Regions from separate parts of the Homo sapiens genome. Here all the other regions are linked to region 4. The links come from fine-mapping of genetic effects on gene expression. A gene starts in region 4. Each other region holds a variant in brackets. All regions are shown on one strand. Distances are between the middles of the regions.

Evidence for each region. PIP is the estimated chance that this variant, and not a neighbour inherited with it, causes the effect. A credible set is the group of variants that fine-mapping cannot tell apart.
Region 1: its variant is the best candidate, but not a certain one, in a credible set for the expression of TPST2 in monocytes after interferon gamma (Fairfax 2014, PIP 0.72).
Region 2: its variant is the best candidate, but not a certain one, in a credible set for the expression of TPST2 in whole blood (INTERVAL, PIP 0.56).
Region 3: its variant is the best candidate, but not a certain one, in a credible set for the expression of TPST2 in monocytes after LPS (Fairfax 2014, PIP 0.80).

The regions. Positions count from the first base shown.
Region 1 is chr22:26,521,993-26,524,674 of GRCh38, forward strand. TPST2 (tyrosylprotein sulfotransferase 2) reads right to left here. Exons shown (of 7, transcript NM_003595.5): 7 at 4-2,682. Among named protein-coding and RNA genes, the nearest start is that of TFIP11-DT, 11 kb to the left of the region's middle. The variant A/AAAAC (reference allele first, on the strand shown) is at 1,198.
Region 2 is chr22:26,556,641-26,559,320 of GRCh38, forward strand. The region is part of intron 1 of TPST2 (tyrosylprotein sulfotransferase 2); the gene reads right to left. Among named protein-coding and RNA genes, the nearest start is that of MIR548J, 2.7 kb to the left of the region's middle. RefSeq lists an enhancer at 1-116. The variant G/A (reference allele first, on the strand shown) is at 1,448.
Region 3 is chr22:26,568,595-26,571,276 of GRCh38, forward strand. All of the region lies in intron 1 of TPST2 (tyrosylprotein sulfotransferase 2), which reads right to left. Among named protein-coding and RNA genes, the nearest start is that of MIR548J, 15 kb to the left of the region's middle. RefSeq lists enhancers at 1-215, 216-739. The variant A/C (reference allele first, on the strand shown) is at 1,447.
Region 4 is chr22:26,588,622-26,591,303 of GRCh38, forward strand. It overlaps TPST2 (tyrosylprotein sulfotransferase 2), which reads right to left and starts at 1,511. Exons shown (of 7, transcript NM_003595.5): 1 at 1,432-1,511. It also overlaps a transcript of CRYBA4 not described here. RefSeq lists enhancers at 709-1,209, 1,726-1,865 and silencers at 1,056-1,235, 1,246-1,615.

The DNA of each region.
Region 1 (2,682 bases), 67 kb before region 4:
TGGTTGGTTCATCACAACCTTTTATTTCACAATATTAATAGTAATCATTATAGCTACCATGTATTAAGCCTTCACCATGGGGCTGTTAAGTCTTCATTGCTTAGCTTTACTAAACTAGATAATGTGTTTGCTTATCTCATGGATTTCTCTTAACCATCCCCTGAGATCCCCCTATAGTTCTTATCCCTTTACCCCCATTTTACAGAAGAGGAAAACTGAGGCTCAGAGAAGGGGAGTCACTTGGCCACAGTCGCACAGTTGGAAAGTGGTAGAGCCAGGATGAGACGCTAATTCTGACTCCAAAGCTAGTTATATATAATAATAGCACCCAAGTAATGTATAGATTACCATGTTTTCACATATGGCAAATTAAGGAATCAGAATGAATGATGCATGCTGCCCAAGCTGGACAGAGGATGGGCCAGGGCACAAGTGACGGCTGACCCACTGATCCATGGAACCCCCAAGAAAGGCTCTAGAACAAAGCTCTGATTTCACAGTGAGATTAAAATTCTGCCCAAATCAGGGTACATGGGTGGAATTAATCAAAAAAGTTAGTATGTATGCCTTTCACCCCAGCAATTCTACTTCTCATTTTGCAGAGACTCACTCATACAGTGGCATCAAGAGGTTATATGTGCAGGAGAACGTCCACTGCAGCTTTGCCAGTAGCGATGAAAACTGCTAACAGCCTAAGGGCCTAGCCAAAGTGGAATGCTCAAAAAAGATGGTTTGCTCTAGAACAGGCAGCTGGTAAAAGGAGTGGTGTTAGATCAGCACATGTTCACATCAGAAATGCTCCAGGAGCCAGGTGCGGTGGCTCACGCCTGTAAACCCAACTCTTTGAGAGGCTGAGGAAGGATTGCTTGAGCCCAGGAGTTTGAGACCAGCCTGGGCAACATAGTGATTCCCCTCTTTACAAAAAATAAAAAGTTAGGTAGGTGTCATGGTCCAGCTACTCAGGAGGCTGAGGTGAAAGGACTGCTTGAGCCCAGGAGTTAGAGGTTGCAGTGAGCTGTGTTTGCAGGAGTTAGAGGTTGCAGTGAGCTGTGTTTGCAGGAGTTAGAGGTTGCAGTGAGCTGTGTTTGCAGGAGTTAGAGGTTGCAGTGAGCTGTGTTTGCAGGAGTTAGAGGTTGCAGTGAGCTGTGTTTGTGCCACTGCACTGCAGCCTGAGCAACCAAGCGGGACTCTGTCTCC[A/AAAAC]AAACAAACAAACAAACAATCCTCCAGAGCAATCTGTTAAATTACATTTTGGAATAACCTATTCAAAATGGTTTTTTCCATACGTCTTTAAGATGATAATATTTATATGTTCAAAAATTTAAAGTCTGGAAGACTATGTACAAACAGAAAATGGTAGCATTACCTTTAGGAGCTATTGAGAGGAAGTACAAATAGAGCCACTTGCCTTCTTACTATCAATTCTGATTGTCCCATGTTTTATAATATATTCATGTAGTACTCTAAACAAAATCTTTTCAGATCAAATCAGGGGAGATGAAATGAGAGTGGATTCTGAGCCTAGTTTTTTTCAGGGAACAAGACCCAGTGCTACCACTTAGGGGCTAGAAACAGAAATTGTATTTATTTTATTTTGTTTTATTTATTTTATTTTTGAGATGGAGTCTCACTCTGTTGCCCAGGCTGGAGTGTACTAGCATGATCTTGGTTCACTGCAACCTCTGCCTCCTGGGTTCAAGCAATTCTCCTGCCTCAGCCTCCCAAGTAGCTGCAACTACAGGCATGCGCCACGACGCCCAGCTAATTTTTGTATTTTTAGTAGATGGGGTTTCGCCACGTTGGCCAGGCTGGTCTGGAACTCCTGACCTCAGCTTATCTGCCCACCTCAGCCTCCCAAAGTGCTGGGATTACAAGCATGAGCCACCGGGCCCGGCCTCTTTATTTTCTTTCAGTGTTTTCCCAGGAAGTTCTCTGAACATCCAGGGTCTTCACAGATGGACTTCTCATAAAAGGTAACTCCTGGAACCAGACATAAATTTTTTTTTTGGGGTGTGTGGTGATGGGATACATAGCTGTCGCCAGATTCTCAAAGGGACAGTGTCACACTTAACAGAGCAAGGAGAGTAATCGGTGATTGGTGAATGATCATTTATCAGAGACTGTGTGTCAAACATTTAAAAAATAAAAAGTAACTGCTGAAGAAATGAACAAAAAGGGTCACACCTTCAAAAAAGCCTAATTTCCATTCCAGAGCAATCTCAAGACAAGGAAAAATAAGAGCTGCTTCACACTGAGGGCTTATCTGGTATCAAGGACCACCGCCAATGTCATCCATTAGCCATCCCCAATAAACCCATGAAGTTCAGCCTGAACAGCATAGAAAGACCTCGTCTCTACAGAAAAAAAAAAATTTAAAAAGTAGCCAGGTGTGGTGGCACATGCCCAGCTACTCAGGAGGCTAAGATGGGAGGATCACCTGACCCTAGGAGACCGAGGCTGCAGTGAGCTATGATCACGCCACTGTACTCTAGCCTGAGTGACAGAGCGAGATTCTGTCTAAACACACACATACACACATACACACCATGAAGTTTTAACTTCCCCATTTTACAGATGAAGAGACAAAGTCTCAAGCCATACAGCCAGTAGGTCAGCCTGACTCCAAAAACCCATGCCCCAAGCCACAATAAGTCACTGCCTTCCAAAAGCCTCATATTATCATGAGAT
Region 2 (2,680 bases), 32 kb before region 4:
ATAAAGATGTAATTTTCCCCTCATCCAAATTCCTAGGCCCCCGAATGCAGCCTGGAACCCCAATTAAGAATCGCTGCCAGCATCTGGCTCCGTTATGGACACAAAATCTATGGCTGTTAGGGCCAGGGAGCCATGGTCCTGCCTCAGGAGTCTAGATTCACCTTCCTTCCCATTCCTGCCCGTTTCCTCGCCCCACCATCAAACACAAGAGCAGTAGGGATTTGCACCAGAAACACTTGATGGCATATTGTGGAGCATGGTTTGCATGTTCTGATTTTATTTTAAGAAGTAAAAGTGGCCAGGAGCAGCGGCTCATGCCTGTGATCCCAGCTGCTCACAAAGCTGAGGCAGGAAGACAGCTTGAGCCCAGGAATTTGAGACCCAGCCTGCGGCTATCAACATAGCAAGCCCCAAATATAAGTAGGTAGGAGATGGCAACTGTTATAAAAGAACCATGGCTCCTCTCCACGCTGGCATCACACACTGGCATGTGACCTTGGCTACTAAGTTAGCAGTGTGAAGGCCAACAGGGACCAAAGTGGGGGTGACCCTGGCAGAGGCACTGTACACATGGCCCTGAGGGAAAGCAAACATCCGCAGTGGATGAGGGGAGGCACAGGCAGGTGGTCAGAGTCCCATGCTGCCAGCCAGACTGGGCGTGCACCTGCATCTACCCCAGACCCTTGGCAGCATCACCTCCACTCTCTGGGCCTGAGTTTCCTCATCTGTAAAATGGGCCCAATAATTCTTACTAGCGATGCTGCTGTGAGGATTAAGTGAGATAGGGGCTTAATAAGGGAAAGACCAGAGGGGTGTGGCTAATGCCTTGCAGCTCTTCAATAACTGTGAGTCCCATCTGAATCTACCGATGAGAAATCAGCAGTGGTGAGCAGGAAAAGTGGGGAAAGGAGATTGGCAAGCTCTAGACTGTGCCAGGCTTTGAATGCCAGGTAAGGAGCTTGGAGTTATCCTGGGGACGGTGGGAAATTGTGAGCATTGGTCTGGTTGTGACCTGGGAGGGGACACAGGCTCTCTCTGGTGTAGGATGCCTGAAAAGACAAGGGCTGGAGGCCAAGTGATAGCTGCTGGGGGACCCAGGGAGCCATCTCAAAGAAGAGAGATGGGGTCAGACGTGGTGGCCCATGTCTGTAATCTCAGCACTTCAGGAGGCCGAGGAGGGAGGATTGCTTGAGCTCTGGAGTTCAAGACCAGCCTGGGCAATGTAGTAAAGCTCCATCTCTACAAAAAAATTAAAAATTAGCCGGGTGTGGTGGCATGCTCCTGTAGTCCCAACTACTTGGGAGGCTGAGGCCAGAGGATCACTTGAGCCCAGGAGGTCAAGACTGCAGTGAGCTGTGATCACACCACTGTACTCTGGCCTGGTTGACAGAGGGAGACTCCGTCTCAAAAAAATATATATTTTATATAAAATTTATATATATATATT[G/A]TATAAAAATTATTATATAAAAATATATATAATACACACACACACACACACACACACACACACACACACACACACACACATATATATGTCGCCCAGGCTGGAGTGCAATGGAGCAATCACAGCTCACTGCAACCACCATCTCCCAGGTTCAAGTGATTCTCCTGCCTCAGCCTCCTGAGTAGCTGGGATTACAGGCACTGGGCCACAACACTGGCTAATTTTTTTGTATTTTTAGTAAAGACAGGGTTTCATCATGCTGACCAGGCTGGTCTCCAACTCCTGACCTTAAGTGATCTGCCTGCCTCGGCCTCCCAAAGTGCTGCGACTACAGGCATGAGCCACTGTGCTTGGCCTTAAACAAAACAAAACAAAAAAATTAAAAAGGAGGGAGATGGGAGAGAAGGGAGAAAGCAGCAAAGGAGACACTGTGGGCAGGAGGAGGATGTGATGTGGAGAGAGCCCCCTACTGTGGTCCTCACACATGACTCACTGGCTGGACAGACAAATCATAGCTTCTCTTGGGGTGGGCTTGCTGGTCTCAGCCGTCAGATGGGGAGACAGAGAGAAGGAAGGGACAGAGTGGTGGGGGAGACCCTGGCCACCCTAGGGAGAGCAAAAGGCTTGCCTGGCAGGGCAGGAACAGGGTGAGGCAAGCAGGGCATTGTCCTTGAGCACAAAAACTCAAGGGGGTGCCAAAAAACTCAGTAACCAAGATCAATAATGTTTCAATGCAATCTTTTTTAGATCAGTGGAAAAAAATCCATGACAAACAAAAAATATAAAGTGTTTAAATAGGACAAGTGATGTTGCGCTGTGCTAAGCCACACTGGAGCCAAGGCAGAAAGAAAAAAATCAGTAATACTGATCCTGACATTATTTACAATTTTTATATGTTGTTTTTCATGGATATTTTTGCATTTAGATTGTTTCATAACAGCTTTACTGAGGGACAATGCACATATCATATAACTCACCTATTTAAAGTGTACAGTTCATGGGCCCGGCGCGGTGGCCCACGCCTGTAATCCCAACACTACGGGAGGCCGAGGCAGGCGATCACCTGAGGTCAGGAGTTCGTGACCAGCCTGGCCAACATGGTGAAACCCTGTCTCTACTAAAAATACACAAATTAGCAGGGTGCAGTGGCAGATGCCTGTAATCCCAGCTGCTCAAGAGGCTGAGGCAGGAGAATCGCTTGAACTTGGGAGGCAGAGGCTGCAGTGAGCCAAAATT
Region 3 (2,682 bases), 20 kb before region 4:
TGCTAAAAGACACTCCCACCACCAGCGCCATGACGTTTACAAATGCCATAGCAATGCCAGAAGTTACCCTATATGGTCTAAAAAGGTGAGGAACCCTCAGTTCTGGGAACTGCCCACACCTTTCCCCTTATTTAGCATATGATCAAGAAATAACCATAAATATAGCCAACCAGCAGTCCTCTGGGAGGCTCTGTCTATGCAGTAGCCATTCTATTGTTTGTTTACTTCCTTAGTAAACTTGCTTTCACTTTATGAACTCACCCTGAATTCTTTTTTTTTTTTTTTTTTGAGACGGATCTCGCTCTGTCTCCCAGGCTGGAGTGCAGTGGCCCGATCTCGGCTCACTGCAAGCTCCGCCTCCTGGGTTCACGCCATTCTCCTGCCTCAGCCTCCCGAGTAGCTGGGACTACAGGCGCCCACCACCACGCTCAGCTAATTTTTCGTATTTTCAGTAGAGACGGGCTTTCACTGTGTTAGCCAGGATGGTCTCGATCTCCTGACTTCGTGATCCGCCCGCCTCAGCCTCCCAAAGCGCTGGGATTACAGGTGTGAGCCACCGCGCCCAGCCTCACCCTGAATTCTTTCTTGCACAACGTCTAAGAACCCTCTCTTGGGGTCTGGATCGGGACCCCGTTCCAGTAACAGTTCCATGGATACAAAGTACAAAAACAGGTGAAATTCTAGGGGGAGATGTCAGGATGGTGGTTACCCCGGTGGGGCAAGGGGTAACTGCAGGGGGAGCAAGGTGTCCTGGGGCAGGGAGGGGTGCTATGTACGTTCAGCTATTGATCCAGGTGCTGGTCACACAGACACATTCGTCTTTTGAAAATTCATTGAGCTGTATGCGTATGAAATATGCATTTTTCTGTATACACGTTAGACTTGAATAAAAATAGTCTTAACGAATCACACTTTCAGCAAGCTTGGTGGCTCACACCAACACTTTGGGAGGCTGAGGCAAGAGGATCACTTCAAGGCCAAGAGCTGGAGGCTGCAATGAGCCATGGTTACACCACTGCACTCCAGCCTGGGCAACAGAGAGACTTTGTCTCCTAAAAAAAAAGAAAATTAATGGCCTGGCACGGTGGCTCATGCCTGTAATCCCAGCACTTTGGGAGGCTGAGGCAGGAGGATCACCTGAGGTCAGGAGTTCAAGACCAGCCTGGCCAACATGGTAAAACCCTGTTTCTACTAAAAAATACAAAAATTAGCCGGGCGTGGTCGCAGGCACCTGTAATCCCAGCTACTCGGGAGACTGAAGCAGGGAGAACTGCTTGAACCTGGGAGGTGGAGGTTGCAGTGGGCCGAGATCATGCCACTGCACTCCAGCCTGGGTGTCAGAGCAAGACTCTGTCAAAAAAAAAAAAAAAAAAGGAAGAAAGAAAGAAAAGAAAGAAAAAGAAAGAAAGAAAGAAAGAAAGAAAGAAAGAAAGAAAGAAAGAAAGA[A/C]AGACAGAAAGAAAGAAAGAAAGAAGGAAAGAAAGAAAGAAAGAAAAGAAAGAGAGAAAAAAATTAATTAATCACACTTTGTCAAATGCTGAGGAATGGTGTTGCTGGCTGGGGTATGCTACCCGCCCCACTCCACCCCACACACTTTTTTTTCCCGGCTGCTGCAGAGGAACACACAAGACTCTTTGCATTCATTCAATCAACACTTGCAGGACGGCGCTCTCCCAGGGCTAGTCGGTCCTGGGCGCCAGGAACTTCAAGGACAATTGAGCTTCAGCCTCTGATCATGCCACCCACACCCCGGCTCCTGGCATGGACACCTCCCAGACCCACACTCAATAAATGAGCAGCCAGGCCACGGTGGCTTTTGATCAGATGCCAAGGAGGTTATGTCTGCTTGTCTTCCTCTTTCTCTACAGCCCCATGAAAACGTTTACAGGGTTTTTCCTTATGCGGGGCCAAACCCAGCCATTCTGGCACAGGTATCAGGAGGTCACACTTGGCTACTGTGGCCCTCTCTCCTCCCTCCAGTTCAGGAGATACTAGCGCCCCTGGATGCTCCCCACAGGCTGACATCTCCTGAATTGTCATCTTGAACCCAAATCTCTCTCCTCACTTGGACACAGTTGCCCACTCTCTTCCTCCCTGCACCTGGGTGTTGAGCCTGGTCCTTTCCCCAGCATACCCCACCTGCAGCTGGTAGCAGCAGCATACCCCACCTGCAGCTGGTAGCAGCTCCATCCTTTCATGCTGGTGCCAAAAACCTTGAAGGCAGCTTTGATTCTTCTTTCTCACCCTAATCCAATCCAGCAGCAACTCCTGTTAACTTCACCTTTAAAACAGAGCCAGAATCCGCCATTTCTCACCACCCGCACTGCCAGACGTTTGTTTCAGGCGTTCACTTCTTACCACTCTGGTCCAAGCCACCTCATCACTAGCTTCCCTGATTCTGCCCTTGTCTCATCAGTTGATTTTCAGCAAGCAGCCACAGTGACCTTAGGAAAACGGAAGTCAGGCTATGGCCCTCCTCTGCTCCGCATCCTCCCATGGCTCCCACTTTACTCAGGAAAAACCAGTCCTCATTTGCCTTACAGGTTTGACCCCACCCCTTACCTTTCTGCCCCCAACCCCACTGGCCCTTGCCTCTTCTCCAGCCACGCTGGCCCCCTTGCTGTCACTCAAACACACAAGCACCCTCCCTCCTCTGGGCCAGTGCCCTGGCTGTGCCCGCTGCCC
Region 4 (2,682 bases):
AAACAACAGTACAATTGGGGTTCAGTGGGGTGGGGGGATTCAGAAATGACCCAACAGTTCCTTTAGGACAATGAAATAAACCCAGCTTTACAGTTATGGAAACTGAGACTAGATCGGAAGGAAAATGCGTCGCCCGGGCCACATCACTACTAAATCCGGTGTGTCACAGATCTGTTCAAATCCAGAAGCCTACCCTCGCCAGCAGACCACCCTGCTGAGATGAAAGGGTTATCACATGGAGGCTAGGGAGAGGTGTCCACCCACAGCCCAGTCTGGCAGACAGACATGCAAGGGAATGTCTGTTGGGAAGTGAGAAAAAGGGCTGGCTAACTCTGTGGGGTTCAAAACAGGAAGCACCCAACAATACCAGGAGAATGCCAGGGAAGGCTTCCCGGAGGAGGTGCTGCTTGAGGGGGCTTCTGTAGGATAAGTAGGAGTTCAACAGCCCGCCTCCTCAACATCCCCAAGGACATTAAGTCAGGAGGCCTGTGAGTGAGTTTCAGCTCTGCCACATCCTAGCTGTGAATCCTAGGGTCACGGGCAGGTGACCTCTCCAAGCCTCAGTCTCCCCATCTGTAAAAGGGGAAGGGGGCAAGAGGTTAGGCACGGTTCTTTCTAATGACTCTGCTGAGGTGGATGGTTCCTTCCCTAGGGAACGGGCCTTTGAGTGGGAATGCCAGACCTCGACCTCTGTCCCATCTAACAACGACTCTGCCAGGTCAGGCGTGCTCAGCCTCTGAGCCCATGCTCCCAGTCCCCTGCTACCAGTCCCAGTCCCGGCTTTCCGGGCACCTCCCATCCAGCTCACACCGAGAAGCGGAGTTTACGGAGGGAGGTTGGGGGTTGGGGTGGGATCCTCGGGTCAAATTCCTCTCCACTCCTCACCAGTGACCTCCAAGTTCACTAGGGCTCCCCAACCCAGTGCTCCCAGCGCCCACCTCCCCAGCCGACGATTTCCGCCCCCAACGCCTCCACTTCTGACGCTCCTCGCAACTCCACGGCTGCTGCAAGTTAACTTCCACGCGCCCTGGCGCCCGCCTGGGGGTCCCCGCGCGCCTGGGCGAGGTTGGGGACTCCGGAGGCGGGGACGCGCCGCCCTCCCCCCCAGTCCCCCCGCCAACAGACGCTGAGCGTCTCCCAGGCGCTGGGTCCGAAGCGGGAAGCGTGGTAACGGGGGCCCGGTGGATGCCGCACCCCGCGGAAAGCGCTCGGGACGCCGAGCGGGTGCGGATCCCAGAACCGCGCGCCCGCGCCGCCTGCCTGCCTCCCAGATCCCAGCTCCCAGCCCCGGAGCCCGAGCAGTCGCGCCGGGCCCGGAGGCAGCCGCCAGGACGGAGGGCTGCCAGGCGCCCGAGGCCGACCCGCACGGCCCCCAGCCCGCGCCCCCGGTTGCAACCCGAGGCCACCCCCTGCCGCCCCAGGGCCACCTACCGTGGCGAGACGCGGCGAGGCAGCCCCACGCACCCAGCGACTCCCGGCTCTCCAGCCGCCCCAGCCGGGGAAGGGGGAGGTGCCCGCGCGGGGGCGGGGCCGCGGCGACGTGACGTACGGGGGCGGGCCCGATACGCGGCCCCGCCCCGCCCCGCCCCATCCCCTCCACTGCGCCTCGGGACCGCGAGGTGAGCAGAGGCTGGTCGGGAAGTTTCCCGGAGGCTCGCCCCGGGAACCCCGCCCCGCCGCCCTGGAAGCCCCTGTCTGCTCGCTGGCTTACCCCTAGGACGGGCAGCTCACCACTTCTCCCGGTCAGTTCTGTTTAAGAGAAGTTCCTTTCTGCCTGTAAGCAATGAAGTGGAATGATCACCAAAAAGTGGTGTAAGAAAAGAAAAGTAGACCCGCAGCGGGGTGTATTCGTGCTACTGTTTGTGTAAAACACAGAAAAAAGAAAGGGGTGGTCTGATGTATAGTCATACACACCAGTGGTTTTGGAGGGAGTTTTTGTGGATATACCACATTCTCTCCATTTATCAGGGATTTTGCCCTGACATCCCTCCACCACCACGACATTTGGCAATCTCTGAAGACATTTTTGGTTGTCATAACTGGGGAAGTGGAGAGGCGATACTGGCATCTAGTGAGTAGAGGCCTGGAATGCTGCTAAACATTCTGCGGTGCATAGGACACCCTTTCCACCCCCAGCCCTGCCACTACCCCCCCAAAAAAAACCCTGCAAAAAATGCCGAATAGCGTAAAGGTTGTGAAGCCCTGATATACACAAATGAAACAAAACTCCTGACTGATAAATCTTAGCACAGTCTAAGTTCTATAACCTTTCAGTGCTTCTGCTTCTTCATGTGTAAAATTGGAAAAATAATAGAGCTATCTATGCATCGTATGCTTGTGCATTGAATACCTGAAGAAAAGGTAGGGTAGGCATGCAGGCTTACTTTTCATTGTGAACTTTGGTTCTTTGTTCTCTTTTAACTTTCTATTTGCCATATGTATATATTATCTGTTTAAAATAAATTTCTGGGTCAGGTGCATGGCTCACACCTGTGATTCTAGCACTTTGGGAGGCGAGGCGGGCGGATCACTTGAGGCTAGGAGTTCAAGACCAGCCTGGCCAAAATGGTGAAACCTCGTTTCTAATAAAAATACGAAAATGACTTTGGGAGGCCAAGGTGGGTGGATCACATGAGGTCAGGAGTTCGAGACCAGCCAGGCCAACATGGCGAAACCCTGTCT